Linked DNA regions of Homo sapiens. The protein of the gene in region 6 purifies or fractionates together with the protein of the main gene of each other region. This does not show direct contact. Each region holds a gene or a part of one and is shown on either strand. Other genes may lie near its edges. The genes, in order: SETX, MYO9B, MGME1, STK36, BDH2 and CITED1.

The links.
Region 1: the proteins of CITED1 (region 6) and SETX purify together in Homo sapiens (affinity purification with mass spectrometry; one large-scale study listed by BioGRID and IntAct). This does not show direct contact.
Region 2: the proteins of CITED1 (region 6) and MYO9B purify together in Homo sapiens (affinity purification with mass spectrometry; one large-scale study listed by BioGRID and IntAct). This does not show direct contact.
Region 3: the proteins of CITED1 (region 6) and MGME1 purify together in Homo sapiens (affinity purification with mass spectrometry; one large-scale study listed by BioGRID and IntAct). This does not show direct contact.
Region 4: the proteins of CITED1 (region 6) and STK36 purify together in Homo sapiens (affinity purification with mass spectrometry; one large-scale study listed by BioGRID and IntAct). This does not show direct contact.
Region 5: the proteins of CITED1 (region 6) and BDH2 purify together in Homo sapiens (affinity purification with mass spectrometry; one large-scale study listed by BioGRID and IntAct). This does not show direct contact.

The regions. Positions count from the first base shown.
Region 1 is NC_000009.12:132,348,478-132,352,054, reverse strand, and holds part of SETX (probable helicase senataxin), read left to right. Parts: intron 1-2,619; 5' UTR 2,620-2,626; coding exon 2,627-2,803; intron 2,804-3,577. UniProt on the Homo sapiens protein: Probable RNA/DNA helicase involved in diverse aspects of RNA metabolism and genomic integrity.
Region 2 is NC_000019.10:17,082,230-17,085,806, forward strand, and holds part of MYO9B (unconventional myosin-IXb), read left to right. Parts: intron 1-3,577. UniProt on the Homo sapiens protein: Myosins are actin-based motor molecules with ATPase activity. Unconventional myosins serve in intracellular movements. Binds actin with high affinity both in the absence and presence of ATP and its mechanochemical activity is inhibited by calcium ions.
Region 3 is NC_000020.11:17,988,782-17,991,661, forward strand, and holds the end of MGME1 (mitochondrial genome maintenance exonuclease 1 isoform 2 precursor), read left to right. Parts: intron 1-1,157; coding exon 1,158-1,328; coding exon of another isoform or gene 1,329-1,405; 3' UTR 1,406-2,341; downstream 2,342-2,880. UniProt on the Homo sapiens protein: Metal-dependent single-stranded DNA (ssDNA) exonuclease involved in mitochondrial genome maintenance. Has preference for 5'-3' exonuclease activity but is also capable of endonuclease activity on linear substrates.
Region 4 is NC_000002.12:218,692,557-218,696,133, forward strand, and holds part of STK36 (serine/threonine-protein kinase 36), read left to right. Parts: intron 1-26; coding exon 27-154; intron 155-683; coding exon 684-788; intron 789-1,166; coding exon 1,167-1,265; intron 1,266-1,338; coding exon 1,339-1,427; intron 1,428-1,707; coding exon 1,708-1,771; intron 1,772-1,968; coding exon 1,969-2,079; intron 2,080-3,577.
Region 5 is NC_000004.12:103,093,282-103,096,858, reverse strand, and holds part of BDH2 (dehydrogenase/reductase SDR family member 6), read left to right. Parts: intron 1-584; 5' UTR 585-604; coding exon 605-676; intron 677-1,577; coding exon 1,578-1,656; intron 1,657-3,577. UniProt on the Homo sapiens protein: NAD(H)-dependent dehydrogenase/reductase with a preference for cyclic substrates. Catalyzes stereoselective conversion of 4-oxo-L-proline to cis-4-hydroxy-L-proline, likely a detoxification mechanism for ketoprolines.
Region 6 is NC_000023.11:72,303,062-72,307,102, reverse strand, and holds the start of CITED1 (cbp/p300-interacting transactivator 1), read left to right. Parts: upstream 1-1,188; 5' UTR 1,189-1,278; intron 1,279-1,680; exon of another isoform or gene 1,681-1,788; coding exon of another isoform or gene 1,789-1,801; intron 1,802-4,041. UniProt on the Homo sapiens protein: Transcriptional coactivator of the p300/CBP-mediated transcription complex. Enhances SMAD-mediated transcription by strengthening the functional link between the DNA-binding SMAD transcription factors and the p300/CBP transcription coactivator complex.

The DNA.
Region 1 (3,577 bases), on a different chromosome or scaffold from region 6:
AGAAAGAGATTGTTATTTGAAGTTTCTGGCTAGTTAATGTTGAGAAATGGATAGCCTAAGGATAAGTCTGTAGAAAATTACAGTAATACCTATGGTGAAGCATCCTATATTTTTGGTTTTGACACATTAGCTCTCTTTTTGGTGGGTGCTCAGAGAGTTGCTTTAATTTTGGTTTTGCAACTTGAGTATTGTCTGGACACACCCATTTGTCATTCACTAATGATTGCAAGCCGTTACAGTCTGATGAAACTAACAAAATAGACCTCAAGAAGAACTGAGTTGTATAAAAGCTTAAGAGGATTCACAGTAGTTTAGAAGCAATAATTTTCTCCTTAAAGACAAAATATGCCCTATTGAGGTTTCCTGGGCTTAGCCATTAGGCCAGTGATGATTTTAAATTTGAAGACAAAACCACACACACAGCCTTTTGAAGAAGAACCATGGAAGCACATGTTCTCTTGTTGGTGTGCTCTGCAGCAGTATTCTCCGTTATCTTCTAGCGGCCATGACACTCACCTATTTTGGTAGTAACTCCTATATATTTTGAGAAAATTTAGTCTTGCTTTTTTGGTTGTGGAAATAGGCTAGTTTTCTAAGTGAAATAAAAAGCAAATTCTGTAATTTTCTTAATAGAAGGTTTCTTTTGTTGTCTCCTTTGTTAGTACTTATTTTAAAGTACACAACATTTGGAGCTTCAAGTAAGGTAAGTGGGAAAAGAAGTATGCAACATTTTATTTGCATGGTAGTCTCACTTAAGTTTTTTAAAGCTTAAATTGGCTGCAGTCTGTTAGCTGCTGAAATCATGCTTCAAATGTTTGAGAAACCTCCATGAAGTTTCACTTTCTGTTCTTACGTCTTCTAAGTTCACTTTCCATATTAAACTAGGTTACCGGAAAAAAAAACAGCTTCTGCAAGCTGTTAACTTACTAGTAGTGTGATGTTGGCCTCTTAGGTATAAGTAATTCTTCTTTTGAATAAAATAATTTTAAATTCTGCAGAAATACATTGAAGACCTTATCCCATGTTACTTGGCATTTCCTAGTCTGCAGTGCCCTTGTACTAGAAGGCATTAATAAAATGTAATTGAGTTAGAGTTTGTGTCAGGAAAGGGCGGTACTCTGCGGCTATCACTGCATACTCTTTTTCCCCCCCACGTCGATGAGAACTGTGTAACTCATGTTATCCTTTTTCTCTGCTTTCAGGAAGCTCCTCATGTAGAACTTAGTGAAATTAAATTTCTTCTAAAGAAGTTTTGATTTTGTTTTTTGAAATCTCATTTTTAAATGTCCTTTTGTGTGTATGTACTTTAATGTTGAAAGCTACCCTAAATTCTTTTTAGAACCATGAAGAAAGTATACCTCTTCAAAAGCATAAGTAAAAGTAATATTTAATAAATTTTAAAAAATCAATTCATATGACAATGTATTTGATTATGCTTATGCATTTCTAAATAATTATTTAATTGTGGGTATAAGAAGAAATTAAAGAATTTTAAAAAATCACTTTATTTTAGGAACTAGCTTTATGCCACAGAAGCCTCAGCAGCCAAGCCTAGTTTCTGTTGAGATGTTTTATATTTCCTGTTGGTAAAGATTATGTATTCTGAATTTTAGGGTGACGGTGATACTCAAAAATCTCACACTGCCATGTTTCCATTCCCACATACTCAGTGTCTTCACTTAGGTTTCTTTTGTTTGTTTGTTTTGAGACAGAGTTTCACTCTGTCACCCAGGCTGGAGTGCAGTGGCGCAATCTTGGCTCACTGCAACCTCTGCCTCCCACGTTCAGGCAGTACTCCTGCCTCAGCCTCCCAAGCAGCTAGGATTGCAGATGCGCACCACCAGCTAATTTTTGTATTCTTTTTAGTAGAGATGGGGTTTCACCATGTTGGCCAGGCTGGTCTCGAACTGCGGACCTCAAGCAGTCTGCCCACGTCGGCCTCCCAAAGTGCTGGGCTTACAGGCATGAGCCACCGTTCCCAGCTTACTTAGGTTTTTTAACCTCCTTCTAACCTTTCTCCCTGAGTGGAGAGTTTTTAAACATTTTTAAAAACTGCCTCTCCTGTGAATTTTATTACCACCAATATATTGTGTCTCTCTTTATGTACTGTATGTTTATCTGAGCTTTATATCTAAAAAGAGGAGGGCTTTTTCACGTCCCACTAACTAGTTTTAGATCTCTTTGAGGGTGACATCACTCCTGATGAGAATGCTGAGCTAGGTCCATTCAGTTTATGAAATGAACTTAAGTTTGTAGTTGGTAACTTTTTTCCCCATTCCAAAATCTGTACTTTGAAAATATTGGTAAGTCTGGGTCTCTATATATTTTCTATCGGTACTGTGTTGTTTTGAGCCTTCTCTGTAGCACAACTTTATGTTGCCTTATGATACTTATTCCTTATACAATGCTTTTATTTTTCTGTATTTTTCGTATGTCAAAAATAGAAGGATTTTTTTAGTTTAGTGAATCAGTGATTGATAAGCCAGCCAGCAGAAGATTTGGGTTTTAGTGACACATTTTAAATTGAAACCAGGGTCACAAGTTGAAAGTGTACCTATTCTTGACACACAGTAGGTCTGAAGTTGGTTTTCTTCTTGATGTCATCTTTTCTGGCTGTAGGTACAGAATGAGCACATGTTGTTGGTGTACGCCAGGTGGTGCTTCCACCATTGACTTCCTAAAGCGCTATGCTTCCAACACTCCGTCCGGTGAATTTCAAACAGCCGACGAAGACCTCTGCTACTGCTTGGAGTGTGTGGCTGAGTACCACAAAGCAAGAGATGAATTGCCATTCTTGCATGAGGTAAAATATATTAGATGGGCAATATTTTTCAGAGCTTGATAGCTGGGAAGAGAGTAAGTTTGAACTCCGTTGGAAGTATTCAGAGAAATGATGATACGATTTCAACTTTGTGGGTTTTTTTTTTTGTTTTTGTTTTGTTTTTGTTGTTGTTAGAGATGGAGTCTCACTCTGTCACTCAGGCTGGAGTGCAGTGGAGTGATTATACATATATCATTTTACACATTCGAGTATATTCTTAGGACAAATTCCTGAAAGTGGAAGTGCTGTCTCATGATTTTCCATGGGCCACATGGGTTTTCATAGTTTGTTTTGCTATGTTTTGGAGACAAGGTCTTTGCTCTGTTGCCCAGGCTGGAAGTGCAGTGGTGCGATCACGGTTCACTGCAGCCTCAACCTTCTGGACTCAAGCCATCCTCCCACCTCATCCTCCTGAGTAGCTGGGACTACAGGCATGTGCCACCATGCTCTGCTAATTTTTAAAATTTTTTTGTAGAGACGAGGTCTTATTATTTTGCCCAGGCTGGTCCTGAACTCCTGAGCTCAAGTGATCCTTCCGGTTTGGCCCCCCAGTGTTGGAATTACAGGCATGAGCCACCATGCCTGGCCGACTTTGAAGGCTAATATAAGTCAAGTACCTAACTCATTGCCTGGTATATACTAGGTGCTGAGTAAATGTTTATCACGGATGGAATTGAAACCTGGATCAGAATTTTATGATCTGTTGCTTTTAGTCACATTGGTATAAAATAATTTAATGAAATAAAGTCATTGGGA
Region 2 (3,577 bases), on a different chromosome or scaffold from region 6:
GTCAAATTAACAGCCCAGTGGGGTCTGTGAAGGTGCCGGCAGCAGGCGAGCCTGTGACGGGAGCCTGCCTGGCCTGGGGACTCGCTTATGGGGGAAGTGGGAGACCTGAGAGCTTCCCCAGTCAGCCGTGCCCTGGGTCTTCTGCCTGCGAGGTGGGCACCGCTGCTTCCTCACGAGTGAAGTCACAGCAGCACAGCAGCAGTGGGAGGCTCAAGGCTTTGCTGTGGATCTTCCTGGGCTCACTGCTCAGAGCATCTCCACGAGGAGGCGTCTGCCACCTCCTGCATCCCATTCCAGGGCAGACGAGATCGGGGGCAGGAGGGTGACATTTGAGATTTTGATTCCCAGGGTATGGGTACTCACGTGGGGCTTTAATTTCCTGGTGAATGTGCCATGGGGGGCAAGGGGTAGCTTGCCCACTGCTTGGGAAGACCCCTGGGGTCCTTGTCTTGTCACGTGGAGATGCTGTTTATTGGGTAGGCACAAGAACAAGAGAGGCGGAGAAAGTGTGATCGTACTTATTTGGCCCATAGGTGCCGTGGAAACTGGTTCCTTTCCCCTGGGTGGTCCCTCGGGAGTCAGGCCCATGATTTAGCAGGGAAGGGAGAAGGTAAGGGTTGGGGTGTCCTGGAGTGCAGAAAGTGGCCTGAACCGGGGCAGGTACGTCCTCAAGGCTGGCTCCCTCTTGCACTCCGCACTCTCAATATCCTGCAGCCAAGTGAGCGTGGGGTTGGAACCATGCTAACATGTCAAGTGCCCGTGGGTCCTCGAGGAGGCTGAAAGTGTGTGAATCTTGCTTTTTTTTTTTTTTTTTTTTTTGAGACAGGGTCTCACTCTGTCACCTAGGATAAAGTGCAGAGGCATGATCTTGGCTCACTGCAGGCTTGACAACCTCCCTGGGCTCAAGTGATCGTCCTACCTCATTCTCCCTAGTAGCTTGGGACTACAGGCTGTCACCACCACGCCAGGCTAATTTTTGTATTGTTTATAGAGACAGGGTTTCACCATGTTGCCTGGTCTTGAACTCCTGGGCTCAAGTGATCACCCGCCTCAGCCTCCCAAAGTGCTGGGATTACAGGCGTGAGCCACCACGCCCAGCCACTTTTCTGATTGATTTAAAGCATATCTTCTCAGCTGCAGCATTGGTGACATTGGGGGCAGATCATTCTCTTGGGTAGCAGCTGCCGTCTGCACTGTAGGGTGTTGAACAGCATCCCCGGCCTCCACCCTTCAGATGCCAGTAGCACCCCCTGCTCTGTGTCTGGATAACCAGAAATGTCTCCAGACATGGCCAAGTGTCTCCTGGAGGGCAGAGTCAGCTCTGGGTGAGAAACACTAGTTCCGGGTTCTGTTGACTCCTAAGTGACTTTGCGTCTGTCATCATCTGACTGACCGAAGTCCTAGGATGCTGCCCTCTTTTTTTTTTTTTTTTTTGAGACTGAGTTTCGTTCTTGTTGCCCAGGCTGGAGTGCAATGGCACGGCCTCGGCTCACTGCAGCCTCCACCTCCCAGCTTCAAGTTACCGATTCTCCTGCCTCAGCCTCCCAAGTAGGTGGGGTTACAGGCACCCGCTACCACGCCCAGCTAATTTTTATATTTTTAGTAGAGATGGAATTTCACCATGTTGGCCAGGCTGGTCTTGAATTCGTGACCTCAGGTGATCCACCCACCTCAGCCTCCCAAGGTGCTGGGATTGCAGATGTGAGCCACCATGCCCAGCCCGCACATTTAAATACACAAAGTGAATGGGGAAGGAGAGAGGAGAGAAATCAGAGAGGCTAGGTGGATTCTCCTGGTTAATAACCCTTTGGGTTAATAACCCTTTGGGGGCCAAGTGATTACATGCCTGTAATCCCAGCACTTTGGGAGGCGGAGGTGGGAGGATCCCTTGGGCCCAGGACTTCCAGACCAGCCTTGGCAACATAGTGAATCCCCGTCTCTACAAAAAAGATACAAAAATTAGCCAGGTATGTTGACACATGCCTGTGGTCCCAGCTACTCAGGAGGCTGAGGCCGGAGGATCACTTGAGCCTGGGAGGTTGAGGCTGCAGTGAGCCAAGATGGTGCCACTGCACTCCAGCCTGGGTGACAGAGTGAGACTCATCTCAAAAAAAAAAAAAATTATTGGGAATGTATTCTGTGTATTCTGGTATTTAGTGTGAGGAAAGAATCAATTTTTTTCCAAATAATTAATGTAGGGTCTCTCACCCTCAGCACTGCTGATATTTGTGGCTGGGTCCCTCTCTGTGGTGGGACCCTGAGCACCACGGGGTGTGGACCAGCATTTCCAGCCTCAACCTTCTTCATGTTGGTAGCATCCTCCCTGTCCCAACAACCCTTAATATGTCTCTGGGCCAGGCGCAGTGGCTCACATCTGTAATCCCAACACTTTGGGAGGCTGAGGCAGGCAGATCACTTGAAGCTAGGAGTTTGAGACCAGCCTGGCCAACATGGTGAAATCTTGTGTCTACTAAAAATACAAAAAAAAAAAAAAAGAAAAAAAGAAAAACACACACACACACAAAATTAGCCAGGTATGGTGTGGTGCACCTGTAATCCCAGCTACTTGGGAGGCTGAGGCAAAACAATCGCTTGAACCCGGGAGGTGGAGGTTGCAGTGAGCCAAGATCATGCCACTGCACTCCAGCCTGGGCAACAGAGCAAGACTCTGTCTCAAAGGGAAAAAAACATGTCTCGGGACAGAGGTTGCCAAGTGTCCCTGAGGACAGAGTCAGCTCCAGGGGAGAAACAATGATATAGAAGAACACCAAGCTTTTGAGGGGCAAGCAGAGCCTGTTGAGACCTACAGGTCAAGCCCGTGACTGGCCTGAGGTGACTTCTTTCTCCCCTGCCTTTGTGGTGTGATCACCAGGGTCCCTGGCACAGGGATGAGCTTCAAGGGGAGCTGGGGAGTGGCTGTTTCACCGAAGACACTGGTGGCAGCAAATCCTGAGACCATTGTCCCCCACCATCCAGTTCCGCTCTCAGGTGATCAGAAAATGGAACGAGCTCCCTGTGTCCTTTGTAGAAACCAGGCAGAGGGTGGGTTTCATGGCCAGGAGGAGGAGCATCTGTCTGAAGGCCGCAAGGGCTGGGTCACAGATGGGCAGCATTGGGAGATCCTGGCAGGCAGAGAGCACTCCACGTGGAAACTAGAAGCATGGGGCAGATGGGGGGCCAGGTAGCGAGCCACCTAGGCAGCTCAGCAGATGTGGAGAATGGGAATAAACTTGGGGGGTCTTTGGGGGAATCAGTGGGATAGGTGATAGCTAAAAGGTACAGGGTTTCTTTTTAAGGTGATGTAAATGTTCTAGCCAGGGGCAGTGGCTCATGCCTGTAATTCCAGCTCTTTGGGAGGCTGAGGCAGGAGAATCACTTGAGCCCAGAAGTTTGAGACTGGCCTGGGCAACATAGGGAGATCCCGTCTTTAATAAAAAAAAAAAAAAATTGAAAAATTTACCGAATGTGGACTTGCACCTGTAGTCCCAGCTACTCCAGAAGCTGAGGTGGGAGGATTACTTGAACCCAGGAGTTCGAGACCGGCCTGGGCAACATAGGGAGACCCCTGTTCTTACCC
Region 3 (2,880 bases), on a different chromosome or scaffold from region 6:
GTCTTCCTTGTTCCTTTCCCACTTAAAAAAGCACTTTTTGGCTGGGCACAGTGGCTCACGCACTTTGGGAGGCCGAGGCAGGCAGATTGCTTGTGCTCAGGAGTTTGAGTCCAGCCTGGGCAACATAGTGAAACCCCGTATCTACAAAAAAAATACAAAAATTAGCTGGACATGGTGGCGCACACTTGTGCCAGCTACTTGGGAGGCTGAGGTGGGAGGATTGCTTGAGCCCAGGAAGTGGAGGTTCCAGTGAGCCGAGATTGTACCACTGCACTCTAGCCTGGCCGACAGAGCAAAACCCTGTCTCAAAAATAAATAAATAGGCCAGGTGTGGTGGCCCAAGCCTATAATTCCAGCACTTTGGGAGGCCGAGTTGGGCAGATCACCTGATGTCAGGAGTTCAAGACCAGCTTGGCTGACATGGCGAAACCCTGTCTCTACTAAAAATACAAAAATTAGCTGGGCGTGGTGGTGTGTGCCTCTAGTCCCACCTACTTGGGAGGCTGAGGCAGGAGAATCGCTTGAACCCAGGAGGCGGAGGTTGCGGTGAGCCAAGGTTGTTCCACTGCACTCCAGCCTGGGCAACAGAGCAAGACTGTCTCTCTCCAAATAAATAAATAAATAAATAAATAAATAAATAGCACTTTTTGGCCAGGGGTGGTGGCTCATGCCTGTAATCCCAGCACTTTGAAGGAGGCCGAGGTGGGCAGATTGCTTGAGCCCAGGAGTTCAAGACCAGCCTGGGCAACGTGACAAAACTCCATCATTACTAAAAATAGAAAAATCAGCCGGAAGTGGTGCCCGCCTCAGCTTCGAGGGTGCAACGAGCCGAGATTGTGCCACTGCACTCCAGCCTGGACGATGGGAGTGGGATCCTGTCTCAAAAAAGAAAAAAAAAGCACTTTTCCACCCTCTTCTTGGGCCTTTTTTTTTTTTCAATGGCTCTGTAAGGATCACAGCCCAGTCTTCAATGTTTTATCTGTCATCTTTGTGTTCTTGTGTCCTGGTGCAGTCTTTGATCAACCTACCTTAGAAACTGAGTTAGGAGATATCCTGTAGATTATTTTATACTGAGTTTGCCCTGGAGTAAGAAGGAAACGAACCTAAACTCTGGACCTACTGTAGTGAAACGAGAATTGCCCTGTGTTTCTTCCTAGGTTCAATGTGGCTTAATTGTGGTGGCCTACAAAGATGGATCACCTGCCCACCCACATTTCATGGATGCAGAGCTCTGTTCCCAGTACTGGACCAAGTGGCTTCTTCGACTAGAAGAATATACGGAAAAGAAAAAGAACCAGAATATTCAGAAACCAGAATATTCAGAATAGGGAGCAAGTTGCTATTTGGGAACATTCAGCACCTTCTCACAGTTTGGGAACATATATTGCTGTTTACTCCAGTGTAAAAATGAGGTGCCACTGGATCTGAGTGCTACACGAACACAAGTAGAAGTATTAATTTGTTGAAATGTGTTGTTACCAAAAAGACTGAAAAGCCCCAAAGTCTAGATATAAAGACCTAGACTTCGGCACGCGAAATCCCAGCTATGCTACCTCTTATTTACCTGAAAGGAGGACACGCAGGATGGGCAGTCATGCTGGTGACTCTTGTACTCCCTTGAGGGACATTGGGGGGGGGGGGGCGTGGTCCCAGGCAGGATGCCCAGTCTTTGAGCTGAGATTGGAAGGCAGTGAGGCTGAGGGTGCCAAGATTTCCCCAGGGTTCACCCAGAGGGGAAGGGGCTACATGCCCCCAGCTGTGTGCAGGGAGGACACATCAGCCCACTACCGCTGCCAACACCAATGCCTAAAACTTGTTTCATACATTGGGGTTTTCTATATATTTCAGCTGGGAAAAGCTTACATTTAACCTTTTGAAAAAATAAATACGTGATTAGCCTCAACTAAACATTGCTGACTATAAAGACAGTATATTCACCATGTCGCTGGCAATATGTCATTGCGTAACACCAAATAACCCCCCAGAAGTAGCCAGAGGCCAGTTTGAACATCACAATTCTAAGTGTTTTAGTAACTATTTCTGGCGTGAGTCAACAGATCATGTAGATAGAGTCAATTATTGTTTGTGGAGTTTTTCAGCTATAGGGGAGGGGAACTATTAAAATCCATTTGTTTCTATTCAATAGGTAATAAAAATTAGTTGTCCCTGGGTTTGGGAAACTTAAATGCCCATTACAGCCCTGGGGAAGGGTTTTCTGTCTTATGGAGTGAGTCTTAGCATTTAAGTTATACAGTTGCTGCCTTAAAATAGTAGCCTGCTACAATGACTTCTTTGGGTAGCCATTTTCATAAGAAATAAAATACAAGATATGAGTAATGAAGCTTTGGTTTTGTTTACTTTGTGTGTTTATAGGATAATTTTATAAACCTGGAAATTGTTTGCACTTTTTTTATAATTCAGAATTTTACAAGCCCAATAGCTTTGGTGAGAGTTCTGTGTAAGTGCATAAAAGAAAGCGTCCTCGGCTGGGCGCAGTGGCTCACGCCTGAAATCCCAGCACTTTGGGAGGCCGAGGCGGGCGGATCACAAGGTCAGGAGATCGAGACCATCCTGGGTAACACGGTGAAACCCCGTCTCTACTAAAAATACAAAAAATTAGCTGGGCGTCGTGGCGGGCGCCTGTAGTCCCAGGTGCTCCGGAGGCTGAGGCAGGAGAATGGCGTATACCCGGAAGGCGGAGCTTGCAGTGAGCCGAGATCACGCCACTGCACTCCAGCCTGGGCGACAGAGCGAGACTCCGTTTAAAAAAAAAAAAAAAAAAAAGCCTCCTCACTAAGCCCTCAGCCACGGTCACCTAGCAAGGAAAGCAATATTCAGGTAGGAGATGGGAGGATCAAGGGGGACCTTTGTATTATCTCT
Region 4 (3,577 bases), on a different chromosome or scaffold from region 6:
GAGTTACTCTTTGCTTTTCTCCACAGGAGCCCCGCAAGTGAGCCAGCCACTGCGAGAGCAGAGTGAGGATATACCTGGAGCCATTTCCTCTGCCCTGGCAGCCATATGCACTGCTCCTGTGGGACTGCCCGACTGCTGGGATGCCAAGGAGCAGGTCCGAGCTACAATTGGTTGTTCCTCTCATCCTACTGCCAGAGGAATTGAGGAGGCTAGCCCCAGTTTTTCAGAAAGGCAGAAAAACAAGCTTTTAAGCCCCTCCTTTAGTACTTCCAGAAACAGATGCTCCCACCCTGGGCCATTTGTAGAACATGATATAGCCAGAATCCCAGAGCCCATGGCCAGTTGGTGAGGGAGAGAGCACAGTGATAAACTGCCCAGATGGTGGGGCAGCTGATCTGAAGCCTCCAGTGATGCTTCCTCAAGGGCTGAGAATTCAGCTTTCCTGATCCCTGTTGGTCGGTAATCCTTTCCTCTGTACCTGGCTACACTGGGGCCAAACTAGGCCATGACTTTTGGTTCTCTATTGGTGATGAAGACTGGGAATAGAATGGGGTCTGAGGTTTCTGGTGAATGTGGGAAGAGTGACTAGGAAGAGACTGAGAGTCCTGATCATTTTGGACATATGTGAGGAATAGGGTTGTAATCATGTGGATAGGATTGAGCCTTCAGGTATGTCTCTATAGGTCTGTTGGCATTTGGCAAATCAGCTAACTGAAGACAGCAGCCAGCTCAGGCCATCCCTCATCTCTGGCCTGCAGCATCCCATCCTGTGCCTGCACCTTCTCAAGGTAATCCTCTTAACTCCTGGCATCACAGCTTTATTTTTAACTCCCAGTGCAGACAGAGAAGCAGAGAAACAGACCAAGAGAGGAGGACTAAAAGAGAGAGAGACTGAGAGAGACCATTTGAGACACCCCCTTGGAAGACTCCTTTCTGCTTTTAAATCTGTTCAACTGAGAGGACCCCACTGTTAGCCAGTCCTCAGCGGAACCGAGAAGGGTCCCTGTCTCACTATCTCATAGCAAGAGGCAGAAGGGGGTTCTCTCACACTCCCAAGTGTGGGTACCAGATCTTTTGAGGGGCTGGCCGGTGTTTCCGCTGAGCCTTCAATCTTGGAGCCCGGGGCCTGCCCTGCCTCACTGCCAGACTCCTTCCTTCTCCCTCAGGTTCTATACTCCTGCTGCCTTGTCAGTGAGGGCCTGTGCCGTCTTCTGGGGCAGGAGCCCCTGGCCTTGGAATCCCTGTTTATGTTGATTCAGGGCAAGGTAAGCCAGCTTCCCCTGGCAGCCCCACTGTCTCAGCCAGAGGTTGTTCTGATATCTTAGGTTTCCTTTGTAGGTAAAAGTAGTAGATTGGGAAGAGTCTACTGAAGTGACACTCTACTTCCTCTCCCTTCTTGTCTTTCGGCTCCAAAACCTGCCTTGTGGGTAAGTCATAAAGTAGGGTGTCTCCACAGAAGTCTTCTAGCCACATAGCTAACCCTCACAAAGAGTATGGGGAATGGTACCCTACAGCATATCCTTAGGAGGAATTGGGATAGAGAGCGTGAAGCTTTCTCTACAAAGAACAGACCTAGACTCCCATCAACTTTGTGCCTTGGAGGTAGACATGCAGCCTAGGTGAAGAACACCATGCAAGGGAGAGGGGAGGCCGCTTACCAACCTCCTTTAATACTGCTGCATCCCTTGATGTATCTCTTTATTCCAGAATGGAGAAGCTAGGCAGTGACGTTGCTACTCTCTTTACCCATTCGCATGTCGTCTCTCTTGTGGTAAGTTTTTAACCTTCACCCTCCTCCCCTTTTCACCCTAGCATCTACCCCTTGTGGAAGTGGGGGAGTCACTATCCAATTTGCATCTGTTTCTGGAGGCATTCTTTTGGACCAGGACAGAGACATAAATCCTCTCTGCCTGTCCTGAATGCCATTTAGATTTGGACATTCTTTCTCCTCTTTTACCTCTCCCACAGAGTGCAGCAGCCTGTCTATTGGGACAGCTTGGTCAGCAAGGGGTGACCTTTGACCTCCAGCCCATGGAATGGATGGCTGCAGCCACACATGCCTTGTCTGCCCCTGCAGAGGTGAGGCCCCCCAGGGAGGGCACAGACATGTTTTCTCTGAGTCAGACACTAGGACTGCATTCAAGGGGAAAAGACTGAAATGCCAGCAAGCCTGGAGTAAACTGAGGAATGGAAAAGGAATCAAGGAGCCCTTCCTTTTCTAGATTTGTCGCCGGATGATAGGCCCCTCTGAGCCCAGATTGATCTGGACTTTAGATTTCTTTTTAATATGCAGAGCTTCTAGAGAGTGAGGGAGGGAAGGGAAGAGGAAGGGTGACTAACCTGAGTTTTCTGAGTAGTGTGAGAACCCTGCCTGCTTCGTTCTCCTCCTCCAGAAGCTCATGCTCTTGGCAGAGTCCTTCCTAATGCATAATTTCACCTCTGACTGCAGCTTCCACTCTGCTTTCCCCACTTGTTCTTCTTAACAGATGGAAAAGGTGGCTGACATCCTGTGAATTCTTCAGGAACTCAGTCCATTATGTAGCCTTCTTTCTGCTTTCTCCTTTCCCAGGACTTTTCTTCCTTTCATTTTTAGACCCTTTGGAACTCATCTTTCCTTCATTTTGTAAAAAGAAGGATAGACTTTATAATCAAATTATTGTCATCCCTTTTTTTTTTTTTTTTTTTTTTTGAGATGGAGTTTCACTCTTGTCCAGGCTGGAGTGCCATGGCGCGATCTCGGCTCACCGCAACCTCTGCCTCCTGGGTTCAAGCGATTCTCCTGCCTCAGCCTCCCGAGTAGCTGGGATTACAGGCATGCACCACCATGCCCAGCTAATTTTTGTATTTTTAGTAGAGACAGGGTTTCTCCATGTTGGTCAGGCTGGTCTCGAACTCCTGACCTCACATGTGATCCGCCCACCTCGGCCTCTCAAAGTGCTGGGATTATAGGTGTGAGCCACCATGTCCAGTCTTTTTTTTTTTTTTTTTTTTTTTTGAGACGGAGTCTTATTCTGTCGCCCAGGCTGGAGTGTAGTGGCACGATCTTGGCTCACTACAACCTCCGCCTCCCAGGTTCAAGTGATTCTCCTGCCTCAGCCTCCCAAGTAGTTGGGATTACAGGTATACACCACCATGCCTGGCTAATTTTTTTGTGTGTTTTTAGTAGAGATGGGGTTTCACCATGTTGGCCAGGCTGGTCTCGAACTCCTGACCTCAAGTGATCCATCCGCCTCAGCCTCCTAAAGTGCTGGGATTACAGGAATGAGCCACTGTGCCCAGCCTGCCATCTTTATATATGTAGAATTCTTTTTTTTTTTTTTTTTTTTGAGATGCAGTCTCACTCTGTCACCAGGCTGGAGTGCAGTGGCGTGATCTCGGCTCACTGCAACCTCCACCTCCTGGGTTCAAGCGATTCTCCTGCCTTATCCTCCTGAGTAGCTGGGACAACAGGTGCACACCTCCATGCCCAGCTAATTTTTGTATTTTTAGTAGAGACGGGGTTTCACAATGTTGGCCAGGCTGGTCTGGAACTCCTGACTTCCTGATCCCCCCGCCTCAGCCTCCCAAAGTGCTGGGA
Region 5 (3,577 bases), on a different chromosome or scaffold from region 6:
GTTAAAGTGCAATATCTGGGCTGGGCACAGTGGCTCAGGCCTGTAATCTCAGCACTTTGGAAGGCTGAGGCAGGTGGATTGCCTGAGGTCAGGAGTTTGAGACCAGTCTGGCCAACATGGTGAAAGCCCGTCTCTACAAAAAATACAGAAATTGGCTGGGCGTGGTGGCAGGCACCTGTAATCCCAGCTACTCAGGAGGCTGCGGCAGGAGAATTGCTTGAACCTAAAAGGCGGAGGTTGCAGTGAGCCGAGATCACTCCATTACACTCCAGCCTGGGTGACAAGAGTGAAACTCCATCTCATAAAAAAAAAAAAAAAAAAAAAAAATGGCCAATGTCTGTCACCAGTCATTACTTCAGTGGGTTATGGTAAATGTGTTTGATATACAAAGCTAGGTATGCAGAGTAAGCATTCTAGGAGAATTCAGATGATGGGACTACTTGCACAGAGGTGCTGTCTTCAAGTTCCTGAAGGAGCTCACTAAATTATTCTTAAAAGAGCACACTGAACTATTCATTCTAGATGTTACTGCCTGCTCAAGATCATGTTCTACAGTATAACCCATTAAACACACATGTCTTTAGATTAAACCACAGGTTCCATTATGGGTCGACTTGATGGGAAAGTCATCATCCTGACGGCCGCTGCTCAGGGGATTGGCCAAGCAGCTGCCTTAGTAAGTTATAAGTTACTATCTTTGTTGTTTGCCTACTAACTCTTGACATATTGAATTATGTGGACTGATGCCATGGTTGTTTACTTCTGCTCTGCTTTTTTATTTTTTTACTTTTGTGCTTCTGTTGTCTTAAGTTATAAAAATAAACAAATAAATAAATAGGTCCCTACTCCTGACCCCAGGCAGATGAAGGAATGAATACCTCATATTTAGTACATGACATCACTGATAACCATTGACTCTGAGAAACTTCTCTACTTCAGTTTCTCTGCATCATGATATATTCGCTACAGAGGGCAAACAGGGTTACACAGCTTTCTGAAATTGTGTCAGTTTAGATATATGACTCCAGAGTTATAAGACAGGTTACCTTGTTCTCCTGATTTATATCAATTTCTGTTACATTATGTACCCCACTTAAGCTAATATCGGCACCTTAAGTATAACAGTACCTTAAGTATAATGGCAGGGTATGGTTTGACATTTATGAAAGCACTAGCATACTCTTAGTAGGAAAAGTGTTGAAACAACCAATTTTTCTCTTATTATTTGGAGTTTAGTAACTCAAACTCAGAAATGATATATAGTCTCATTACAGAAGAGCAGTATTTTGAGAGTATTGAAAACAGCTGTCATTTTTTTAAGAACGTTATTTTGTTTGATATTACTTAAAGGGACTAAGTCAGATGACAAGCACAATGTATGTCACATTGTTCTAATTAATGATAAAAATAATAACAATGGAGAAGGGGTAAGACTAGATAGTTTAAAATTCTAGCTATCTTATAGGGAAAAGAACAATGAAAATAAGATAAAGGAGAAAAAGACCACATGATGTTCCATTCATGAGCACAGTTTATTCAAGTAAACAAAGGATTTATTTGTACTTTGTGTCTACTAGGCTTTTGCAAGAGAAGGTGCCAAAGTCATAGCCACAGACATTAATGAGTCCAAACTTCAGGAACTGGAAAAGTACCCGGGTAAGCAACTCAGCAGCTTGAATTTGGGATTCAGTGTCTGCAAGGTATTATAAAGCATGGCGCTCACATGTTGAAAGAAAATTCCCTAGCTACTGAGCTCCACTGCCGTGCTTTTTAGATTCTCTCTCTGATATGAAATCTATATTTTGTGAACCTATAGACAAAAATCTGTGACTTACATGCATAGAAAAATTTGAGGACGAATACTTAAAATCCTTTATTTAGCTAACACATTTGAGGGATTCAGTTCCTAATTACAAACTTACATGTGAAAATTTACTAGTTGTTAGGTTAACTTTTCATGACAGCTTTTCACTTCTGTGCCCTCCTCCTCTAGGATAGCCCTGTCCAATAGTAACATGTTGTGAGCTGCCTGTGTAATTTTAAATTTTCTAGTATCCACATTAAAAAAGTAAAAAGAATCAAGTGAAAATTAATTTAATAATATATTTTCTTTTATCCAATATATCTAAAATATAATCTCAACATGCACTCAAGTTAAAAAATTAATATTTTAATTTTTTCTTACTAAATTTTTTATTTAAATTATTAGAAGTTTCTTACAAACTTCAAACATTAATTTTCTCCTCTTTGCAGCTTTTCTCTTAATTTTCTCTTCTTTGAGGTATAATTGAGAAATAAAAATTGCATATATTCAAGATGTTCAACATGATGTTTTCATATATGTTGTAAAATACCTTGTGAAATGATTATCACAGTCAAGCTAATTAACATATCCATTACCTCATTTAGTTACCTCTGTGTGTATGTATGTGTGTGCTAAGAATACCTAGGATCTACCCTCTTAGCAAATTTCAAGTATACAATACATTATTAATAACTATAGTCACTGTACTGTATATTAAGTCTTATAACTGCAAGAGTGTACCCTTTGACCAACGTCTCAATATTTTCATACTAAATCTTTAAAATTCATGTGTATTTTACACTTGCAGCACATTTCATTTCAGACTAGCTGCATTTCAGGTGCTCAGTAGCCACATGTGGCTGGAGACAGCTTAGCTCTAAAATCACACATCATCATGAGAAACCCTAAGAGAGTACCCAGATTATTAGGTGTGTACCACCACTTCTTCACCCCACTGAACCAAACTCCAACACCAAAGGATTTTAATTGCAGTTTACCCAAAGAAATCAGAACAGAGAACCTATATGAAAGGTAACCCTTACAGCAAAATAGAACAGGTTACATAATCAAACAGCAATTAGTTCCTTGAATTAGTTAATTGAATTGGAATATGTTGAATTATAATTCAAACAAGTCAAAGTAAAGCTGCTGCACTGGGGAAGCACAAAGATAAGGAAATGTTTCTGAAACAAAATTTCAAGTCTTCCCTTTCTTTATGAATCTTTTATTTCTATATTCCCCCAAAATAAACCATATACATATTATTTATAATATATTATAAATTATAAAATATAATACACATTATAGATAATTATATATTATATGTATTATACATATATTATTATATATTATACATATACATATTAATACATTGTATATATTATAAATTATATTACTATATATTATATGTATTATTCATATATTATTATATATTATATGTATACATATTAATACATTGTATATATTATAAATTATATTACTATATGTTATAATATATATTATGCACATTATAAATAATATGTGTATATATTTATAATGATGACTGCTGCTTTTGTTAGACACTGTTTGGAGTTTCTCAGCAACTAGTGCAGTGTGTATCTCTCAGGTGCCCGCCATGCCAGATCTCTCATGTCTAGCCTTCAAGGGTGTCATCCCTTCTTCTGACCCTCTCATTTCTTCTCCTTGCAGTTTAGTCCAGAAATACATGTATTTGACTGGATACCCTTGACTAACAGAGTCATTTCTAATAAATAATGGAAATGACATAAAGGG
Region 6 (4,041 bases):
TGTAGTCCGCCGGCGAGGGGCAGTTCTCGGTGAGGAGGAAGAGAGCAGCGGACGGCACAGCACCCGCGCGGGCCCTCCGTGAGTATCCAGTTCAGATTTTGCCACCAACTCGCCCACGAGCCAGGACATGTGCTAATAATGCCCTAAGCCGGTTATAAAGACGTGGAAATTGAGGGGAGAAAAAAAAAGGGAAAAAAAGGGTCTGTCCTTCCTGGGATTCCTAGCCGAGGCCAGTCTGCTGCCGTGTGCGTGTGCGTCAGGGCTCTCCGGGCGGCAATGGGGGCTTGAGAGCCGGGTCCCCAGCGCCGGGAAGGGAGCGCGGTGGCCGCCACCGCCACCGCCCCGGAGTCCGGCGCCGAAGCTGCGGGCGGGCGGGCGGGCACCAGCTCGGTCAGGGGCTGCTTGGCGCGGCACTGTGCGGTGCAGCGGCGGCGCGGCGCGGTGCGGGCTTTTCCCAGGCGCCCCGGGGTCGGGTGGCCAACGGCGCGGCCGCGGGCGCTGAGCGCGACCGGTTCGCGGTAGCGGTGGCGGCGGCGTGCGTGCCAGGGGCTGGGGGCTCCGCCGCCTCTCTTGCGGCTCACCGAGCTCCGCGCTTCCCTCTCTCCAGGGCAGGCGGCTTCTCAGAGGTAAGCCGGGCCGCCGGGCTGGGCGCCGGGCTGGGCGGCGGGGCCGAGGACTCCCGTGGAGCGGGTATGGGGAGTGGGCGGCCGCCAGGCGGGCCGGAGGGTTCTGGGGAGACTTGCTTTCTGTTGGAAAGCTGCTCTGCTGGGGGCGAGGGGCCGCCCGCCCGCCCGCCCGCCAGCGCTCGGGTTCGCTTGCCAGCGCGCCCCCCTGCCGGCCAGCGGGGCCGGGTGCCCGCTTCTCCCGGGGAGACGGCAGCACCTTTTCTCCCTGCGCCCGCGCTTTCTCCAGCTTGGCTTCCACCGACTTTGCTAATCTCCCGGACCGCATCTGGACGCTCTGGCTCCGGAGCTGCACAAAGCTCAGATTTACTTCGGGGAATTGAGGCAAGAGGGGGCTTTTCGGGCCGAGTTCAGCGGAATTGCGGGATGGAAGTTAGCGAATTTGGGCAACTTGCCTCTACTGCCCAGTCGACCTCAGCCCTCCCCTCCCCCGACACACGCCCACACACACACACCCACGCGCACACCCCTCTCCCTATAAACGCGGGCTGGCGAGCCGCGCGCCGAGTCCCTGCTTCGCAGAGCACCGGACTTGGAGTCAGAGAGACCTGGCTGCGAATCCCGGCTCCGCCACTTTCTAGCGCTGTGACCTTGGGCAAGTTACCGCACCTCTCCGAGCCTCTCTCACTCTTCTCCTAGCGGGGTTTTAGCACTGACCGCAGGCGGCTTGGCTAGGGGGTAGGCTCAGCCTGCTGCCGCGTCGGATGCTCAGCGGGCGCTCAGTAAGTGTTGATCAGGCGCGAGAGTGGCAGCAGCCGGCGCCGGAGTGCGGACTCGCCGCGGAGGCCGACACCCCGTGCCCCTTCCTGCCTGTCCATCCTGTCTCTAAGATCAGTTCCTGATACAGCACTTGCGGGAACGGACGCTCAGGGCCCCGGTGGCCTGGGTGCACGCGCCCGCCGTGCAAGGGATGCTCCCGGCCGCCCCCGGTTCCGCGGCTCCATCTGGGATGCGGCGAGGAGGGCAGCCGAGCTGTCCGCAAACAACGGGCCTTTAGTTTTCAGGTGGCGAAACTGACTGGTCTGGTTAGAGCGCGTCCAAGCCAAGCCGCAGTGCTGTTTGGATTTTTAAATTTCTCCTTCTGAGTGAGAAAATAGCAATCGAGATGGAACCATCCGGTTGGTGCCATTTTAACTTTTGGTCCCCCAACAGGTTAAAGATGAGGCCCCCACCTGCCTCTCCCTTCTCTTTTCCCTCTCCCCTTCCCACCCCTGTCTAGGCGGGAGGGGGCTGCTCGCCCAAGGGAAGGCCTGAAGCGAAGAGCGGGCAGCGGGACTGGGAACTGGTGGCCGGGGGGCCGCCAGGCATCAGCCGGCGAGAAGGCACTTGTTGCTCTAGGTTTCCCAGCCGCCTGTCGCAGCCGTTTCGCAGTGGTCAGCTCGCGGCTTGGAGAGCGGGCTGGGACGTTTCCGCGTTGCCAAGTTTTGCCCACGAACGGGCTAGAGGGTGGTGGAGGAGGGCAGAAAGCCGGGGAAGCAGAGCCAGGGATGCCGATGGAAATGCGATTGCTTCTTCAGACGCATTCAACAACACTTACTGAGCGCCTATTGAGCGCAGACCCAGGCTGGGGTCAGGGTGGGTGGTGGGTCAGTAATGGAAGGCAGAAGATCTGAATGGACACAGGGCCTCTTCTGGGGGAGCTCCCAGATTGAAGAGGGAGGCGCGGTAAAATGGTCTTCCCCCACGAACTGATATCAGAATAGAGAGAGTTTTTTTGCTCGTTCTCTCTTTTGATTTTTCTAATGTTTCTCTTTTGGTTTTGCTGTTGTTGCTGCTGCTCCTGTTGTTTTTTCTTCGTTTTGTACATTCGGGTACCAAGCGGCAAAAAGGAGAGGGAAGGCTGGATAGGAACAGGAAAAGATGGACAGGGCCCCCAGACATTTTTCTTAGGACAGGAAAATTGTCTGATACTGATTGTGCTAGGGCTCTTGAAGACGACATGTGTTAGACTTCTTGTCTGGTGATCACTTGCTTTTGAAATATTTTTCTACGGTTGCCTCAGAGAAGGAGCAGGGCTTCAATCAAGCAATGATGCGGGACCCAACAGCTGATATTTTTTCCTCATGTTTTTAAAAAAATGTTTACCCCTTTCTCTATTTTTTCCCTCCCCTACCCCCATCCACCCAAGTAAGCAATGCAAAGATGATACAGAGAGGTAGTAAGTGGCCACTTTCTAGAAGTGTCTGAGCAGATTCTTAATGACCGCTGCGGAGTGGAGAGTGTCACGGAGAATTCTAGCCTCCTTGGAAAGATTAGAGACTCTTTTTAAGGTCCTCAAGATTCTTTGGACCAAGAGGTATTTATAAATATGAAATTCTACATCTCTAATTGATCATGAAAGCTAGAATATATGGGGCTTTTTTTTTTTAAAGAGATAGGGTCCCGCTATGTTGCCCAGCCTGGTATCAAACTCCAGGGCTCAGGTGATCCTCCCACCTCAGCTTCCTGAGTAGCTGAGACTACAGGAGGGTGCTACTGTGCCTAGCTATGGGACATTTTTTTCTTCTTTGTAAACAGGCCTCCAGGAAAATAAGTTGAGATTTTCAGAGGTTTGTTTATTTTCTGGTTTGGAGGTATTCTTTTGCCTTCATTCCCTTATCCTTTGGCACTTGAGCCAGGAAATCACTTCTTTGGAAGCCTTTTGAATCCAGCTAGGTATGATGACTTAGCCAGTGGTCAGGTGAGGCATGTGGCCATAGGGGTGCTAGATTCTGCTCCCAGAACCGCTGCTACCTGACTAAAAAGGCATTGAATCTCTGTGCCTCACTTGTCACTATAGATGGGAATGGCTGGACTCAGGTTTCTGGGGTAGGCATCCTAGGAAAGCCCAATGCTGGGGCTGTCTTGGAGGGGGCTTGAGACATGGAGGAAAGTGACACATTCCTAGCTTCTCTGGCTCCAGCTGCCTCAGAGCCCCCAGACCACCCTAATCAGCCTGGCTTCTCACAGGCATGCCCAAGGTCATGCTTTGGAGCTCCATGACATTTGCGCTAGAGACTTGTTATTTCCCTGTGCTGCAGCCTCTAGCTTTCTAGGTCTTCCTTGCCCTGACTTCTTCTCACATTCTCCCAGTCCCAGTGGAGGCCCCAACTCTCCAGCCTGGATGCTAGTAGCCCATTGAGACAATATGTTGCTTACTCAGGGACATTCCTGTCCTCTGAACCAGGAACAGTGCCACCCTCACCCCCACACATACACCTTGGGACTGTGAAGTCACTTGCATGAGGAAGCAGTATGTCCCATCTTGGTGATATGGGTAGGTGGCTGCCTGGGCAGTACCTGGCCGAATCAAGCACCTTTCCTGCCTCAGGCAAAAGTTCCAGCTTGATCTCCTCCCTGTGCTCGGGTGATCTCTGGT